Linked DNA regions of Homo sapiens: region 2 is linked to region 1. The links come from fine-mapping of genetic effects on gene expression. A gene starts in region 1. The other region holds a variant in brackets. All regions are shown on one strand. Distances are between the middles of the regions. Region 1 holds the start of SLC30A9 (solute carrier family 30 member 9). Region 2 overlaps SLC30A9 (solute carrier family 30 member 9).

Region 1 (2,917 bases):
ATAAAATAAGAGGTAAGCCTTTATGTATTTTTACTTCATAAAGTTGAATTTCTATTAAAATCTATTACAAGAAAGGGAAAGTAACTTTCCAGTAATATTCAGATTTTTTAGTAATATTGAGCCTACATTTATGGGACATCATTTTTTAATGTTTGTCCACTGAATATTTTAAGTTATGTTTGTCATAGGAAATTAAATTTGCTTACCATTCTTAACGATAATCTCTTTCCTCATTTGGTTATACTTATCTCAATTAGTATAAGAGACTTGTTGATTTTTTTAAAAATTAAGGACATACTAAATTTCCCCGAGATAGTTATTTTGCAGTAATATAGATAAGCGACTCAGATTAACTTTAAAACAAACCACCATACATTCCATTCAATTTATTTTTGCCAGGCATTGTTTTAGCGGCTTTATACAGCCATGTACAAAATAGACAAGATTCCAGCATCATGATGCTTATTTTCTATTCTAGGACACAAAATAGAAAAAAAAATCTCAAATAGTGATAAGCGTTTTGAAGAAAAGTATATAGGACAGCCGGGTAGAGAATGACCAGGACTACCATAGCTAGGGTGGTCAAGGAAGGCCTCTCTTGAGTTTGAGTTAAGAGCTGAATGAGCATGGCAGAGAGAAACAGTTAACGTGGATACTGTTCAGGTTTCTTTCTCCCTGGGACCAAAATGTTTCGAAGTCTGCATACCTCCGTTTACCCTAACTTGTCATGAACATAAAACCTCTTATATTGCAGGCAAAAATCTGAGGTTCACAGATTAGTAGGGCAAGTAGCTGATTCCGAAGTGTGTACTTGCCTTTATGATACTGGATACACACTGGTGTTAACAAGGAGAACGATGTACGTGGCAGACGTTCGGAGAGTACTGGACATGTTGGTTCTAATTTGGGTTTATCCTGGCAGGCTCTAGGTAGAGAGGCTCAGAAAACCTGCGTCCATCCTTCCCATCTTTCCTCCCATTTCCGAAACCACGGCCCCGGTTTCGAGTCCAGAAAAAAAGGAATAAGTAGAACTCCCAAAGGACAGCTTTCCTGGCTGAACAAGATGTAAACAGTTTACGTGATTTCCAACCAAGCGCAAAAGTACAGGTGCAAAAGAAGACGGCAGACACCAAACTTCCCCTGCAGCCACGCCCTCCCCACTTTGGGAGTCTGGGTCCCCGGGAAGGAAGGCCTCCCTATTGGTGCTCAACGTGTTACGTCACTTCCGCTACCTCCACGGCAGGCGTCGCTAAATGACGTTGCCGTTTCCGGGTCACCCAGGCAGCTTGTGGCGGCGAAGCCATCGGTGTTCGCTGATGTCCAGTCTATGGAGTCAGTTGGTACCGGTGGCGGCGCGGAGGCAGAAGGCGGTGTCCGAGTAGGGGCCTCTGCCCCACCAGGATGTTACCCGGCTTGGCCGCCGCCGCGGCCCACAGATGTAGCTGGTCCTCCCTGTGCCGGCTCCGTCTGCGATGCAGGGCGGCGGCCTGTAATCCCAGCGACCGCCAGGGTGAGTGTCCCGCGCTGGCCGCTGGCTCCGTAGAAGCCGAACTGGAGGGCCAGGCTGGGCTCGGCGCCTCGCCTGGGGCAATTCGCCCACTTGCCTTTCGCCAACCTCAGAACCTTCCTTTCTGGCCTCCGCCTTTCCAGTTCAGCCTGCGCAGCCCGCGGGGGTCCTGACAGGTCTCTGACTCTGATGCCTTCTGCAGCCCTAGCATGGCCCCCGCGGGAACTTGTGGGCACCTCGCGGGCCGGATTGCACCTCTGAAGCCTACCGCTTTGTACCAAACAAAATGTTACGTGCGCATCGCGGTGTCCCGCGGTTACTCACCTCCGCGGTTGGAAATTGCGGACTCCGCAAAGTTCCAGGGTCTTTGGAGCTTTCCAGCGCACCTTCATTTAGCACTTGGTTGAGATTTTCTTGGCCTTCTTTTTCTTACTCTCCCAACTTATTTTCTTAAATTTTCTAAAAGGAAGGAGGGGTGCTACTCACTACGGATCTTTTGGAAGAAGTACGAAAGTATCCGACAATCATTGAATGAACCCAGTTTGGGTCCGAAAAACAAAGAAACTCTTCAGTTCGGCTGAGCAGTCTTTTTGGTGAAAAGGTGGCAGTTGTAGTGGTAACCCAGAAAAAAAGGTGGTTGAAGAGAATTTTCGTCTCTCTCAACATTCTTTTCTGACTCAAATTTAAATGGTTTGAGAGTTTCCAAAATAACATTGAACTAATCAGGCTTACCTTCGTTTTTGCCGTAGCTTGACACACATTGCTTGACACTGAGAACTGATAGGATCTCTGAGGGAGAAGACAGAACTAAGTCCACCCTTAACCTAATCCCTCCATTCTTGGGATGCAGAGAGTATTTACCGAAACATTCATGTTCGAAGCCAGGTGTGGTGGTGCGCTCCTGTAGTCCAGCTACTCGGGAGACTGAGGCAGGCAGATCTTTTGAGCCCAATAGTTCTAGGCTAGCCTTGGCAACATAGTGAGCTGTCTGTAAAAACATAGGTTTGAAAAAACCTGTAACATGTTCGTGACCTCCTGAAAGAAGTCGGAAGTTGCAGTCATTCGAGATTTTATGTAATATAAGCTATAGTAACTATGCTGTGGATATAAATTAGAATATATTCGTATCTTTTATTTGCAATAAATGTAAAGCTGAATCTTAGAATTTCAAACGGATAAATTTTAACAGCACTATTCCCAGGGCTTTTTTGGTAGTGATAGAAAAGTGTAACTGTTGAGTTTTTCCATATTGGCAATATACTGCCAGGTTCCCTTATGGACAGAATGAATCATCGGCTGGGTGCAGTGGCTCATGCTGCTAATCCTCAGGAAGATTGTAAACCTTAGGACGCTGAGGTGGGTGGATCGCTTCAGCCCAGGAGTTCCAAGACCAGCCCGGGCAACATGGCA
Region 2 (2,917 bases), 46 kb after region 1:
TGTTGGCTAGGTGGGTCTTGAACTCCTGACCTCAGGTGATGCGCCTGCCTCGGCCTCCCAAAGTGTTGGGATTACAAGCGTGCCCGGCCTGATTTTCTTGAAATTTAAAACATTTGTACATAAGTTTTCTTTAAAGTCATAACCATGTTATGAACCTTAAGCATGTAGATATAGATGAGGAAGACTTTATTTTCTTAGGTTTTAGTGAGATTTATATCCGTCATACACACTCTTAATTTTCTTTAGCCTCTCTCTTTCTGCTCCTAACTCTGGTTCAACATTCAGACTGCCAACTCTGTGCTTGTATCCAAGAAGCTTAGCCCTTGGAGAAGAAAATTACACAGCCAGTGTGATTGTTCTTTCTTCCTTATATGACTATACAAAATCAATGGATACTCAATATTATTTGACAGTCTTACTAAACTTCCAGAGTATGTTCACCTTCCCACTCTTTGAAATAGCTATTGCATATCTTTTTCTTTCTTGCCAACAGCCTCACTCTTTACTCTTCAGCTGTTGACTTTGCTTCATATTTTATTGAAAAAATAGGTGTAATTTCATAAAAGTACCTCATCTTTTTCATCACCTCATCTTTTCATCACCAAATTTACTAACTCATCTACACATGTGACAAAATACTCTGCTTTCCTTCCTACTAGAAGGAAATTAATATTGGGACACATGTAGAAAGTTTGCCTCTACTGTTCTACCTCTTATTTTCTCCTGAACCTAATCCAATTGGGCTTTCAACCCCACCACCCCACTGAAATGACTTACCAAAGTCCCCAGCACCTTTAAGATGCCAAGCAGTCTGTGGCCAAGTTGACTTTCCATTTAAACTTGGCTGGGAGGAATCTCCTATCAAGAAGTTAATGTCATATTTGGATAAAAGGCTACCTATGCACATTTTCTTCTCTCTGGTGGCATTTGAGACATTGCACCCATTTTGCAAAGTTTAGACATTGGCAGTGATGATAATTTTAGCCAAATCTTATTTGATATGCTTTCCTTTTCCATTTATTATCTTCAAGACCTCTTAATTTCCATTTCCCCTTTGATCACTGCATTTCTGGCACCCCAGTACTGCCCTGAAGATGTGGACTCTCCTCTGGTAGAGCCTTCATATGTCTTA[T/C]GAGCCAGCATTTTCACTCTCATGCCTCAAGGGCTATTGCCATTGCCTCTTGTGCTGGGATAACTTAGGCTGGTGAGACCTGCCTCCTGGGAAGATTCACTCCTCGCCTTCACATCTGTTTCACATGGAGAATCATCCTCACCAGATTTTCTAATAGTAGCTGTTGACTTATGAAATCTTTGTTACTTCAGAAGATTAATACTGGTCAACTTTTGAATATTCCATGTTTTGAAATGATTTTTTTTTGCTATTACAACGTTTTTTTGCTGGGACATTAGGATAAAACTAGTATTTCATTTCCCTCTACTGTACCCCTATTCCCTTTAGGAATGGTTGTTCTCTCACTGAAGATGGTTGCTTTCCTTCTCTAAAACATAGGGCTAATCCTGTTTGCAAAAATTAAATGCCTTCTTTTTTTTTTTTTTTTTTTTTTTTTTTTTTTTTTGTTATTTCTGACCCAGACACTTGTTTTTCCAATATATTCTTATCTCATGAGAACTCCAATAATGAGATATATGAAATCACAGTGTTCTGGGTCTGCTCCTCTGGTATTTAATTTCTTATATAATAATTTCCCCTTTAATACCTTTCTACTTTCCCATGCCTTCCCTTCTATTTCTAATTCATGGGTTTCTTGATATAGTACTTCAGAGAATTGGAAGTACCTTTATCTCTGCTTAATATATTTAACTCCACAATAGTATCACCTTGAAATGCACCAATAATGCTTTGAACAATTTATGCTCCTTTTCCTGGTAGTTCTCTCTGAAATCTATCCAAATTTTCTGCACTTGTCCCAATATTAAAGAACCTTGTTTATTGTGAATGTTCTCAAAGATATATAAAAATAGAAAAATAGATATTGGCTATCCAGTTTCATTAATTTCTAACATTTTGCTGTCCTGGTCTTCAAAAAGGGGCAGTTCTCCAATTGCTCTGATTATGGAATTTTTTAATATTTTATTTTATTTTATTTTTGAGACAGAGTATTGCTGTGTTGCCCACGATCTCAGCTCACTGCAACCTCCGCCTCCCGGGTTCAAGAGATTCTCATGCCTCAGCCTCCTGAGTAGCTGGGATTACGGGCACCCACTACCACAGCCGGCTGATTTTTTTGTATTTTAGTAGAGACGGGGTTTTACCATGTTGTCCACACTGGTCTCAAACTCCTGAGCTCAAGCAGTCTGCCCATCTTGGCCTCCCAAAGTGCTAGGATTACAAGCGTGAGCCACTGCGCCCGACCTGATTATGGAATTTTTGAGTAGCTTTTACAGGAAGCTTCCCAAGCAGGTTGTGGATCCTGGCTCCTTGTGATCTCTTGTTTTTCTAGATTTTTATTCTCTTGTTAGAGTTCCTTGGACCTTATCATTATTTCTAGTTTCTACCAACACATCTTCCCGTTTTCTACAGCCTTCTTTATTAGAGTGGTTTGGGCCGAGTGAATCTTTTTCCTTATTTTTCTTATTATTTCTTATTCTGATCTTAAAGATCTCATTTCCTTTCCCTGTTTTGCCCCTCCCATGAGTTCCCAAACCTTTCTTCTAAAGAAATCTTATTTTTCACCGTAAGCAGCATTCTATTGTTCCCATAATAATTTCATTGAGTTTTTTCTCTATTCATCCAAATAATACAATATATTCTTATTTTAATAAAACATACATTCTGTTTGTTATCAATAAACAGTATAATTCAGAAATCTAGACCCATAGTCAGAGTTTATGGCTTACAAATCGAAGTAAAAGTTGAGATCACATGGACAAGGTTTATCCCTGTGTAGTTCCTTCT

What was found. PIP is the estimated chance that this variant, and not a neighbour inherited with it, causes the effect.
Region 2: its variant is the best candidate, but not a certain one, in a credible set for the expression of SLC30A9 in nucleus accumbens (GTEx, PIP 0.57).

Annotation. Positions count from the first base shown.
Region 1 is chr4:41,989,251-41,992,167 of GRCh38, forward strand. SLC30A9 (solute carrier family 30 member 9) reads left to right here and starts at 1,280. Exons shown (of 18, transcript NM_006345.4): 1 at 1,280-1,510. The coding sequence starts at 1,402. RefSeq lists enhancers at 952-1,031, 1,312-1,451 and a silencer at 1,161-1,380.
Region 2 is chr4:42,035,697-42,038,613 of GRCh38, forward strand. All of the region lies in intron 7 of SLC30A9 (solute carrier family 30 member 9), which reads left to right. Among named protein-coding and RNA genes, the nearest start is that of SLC30A9, 47 kb to the left of the region's middle. The variant T/C (reference allele first, on the strand shown) is at 1,133.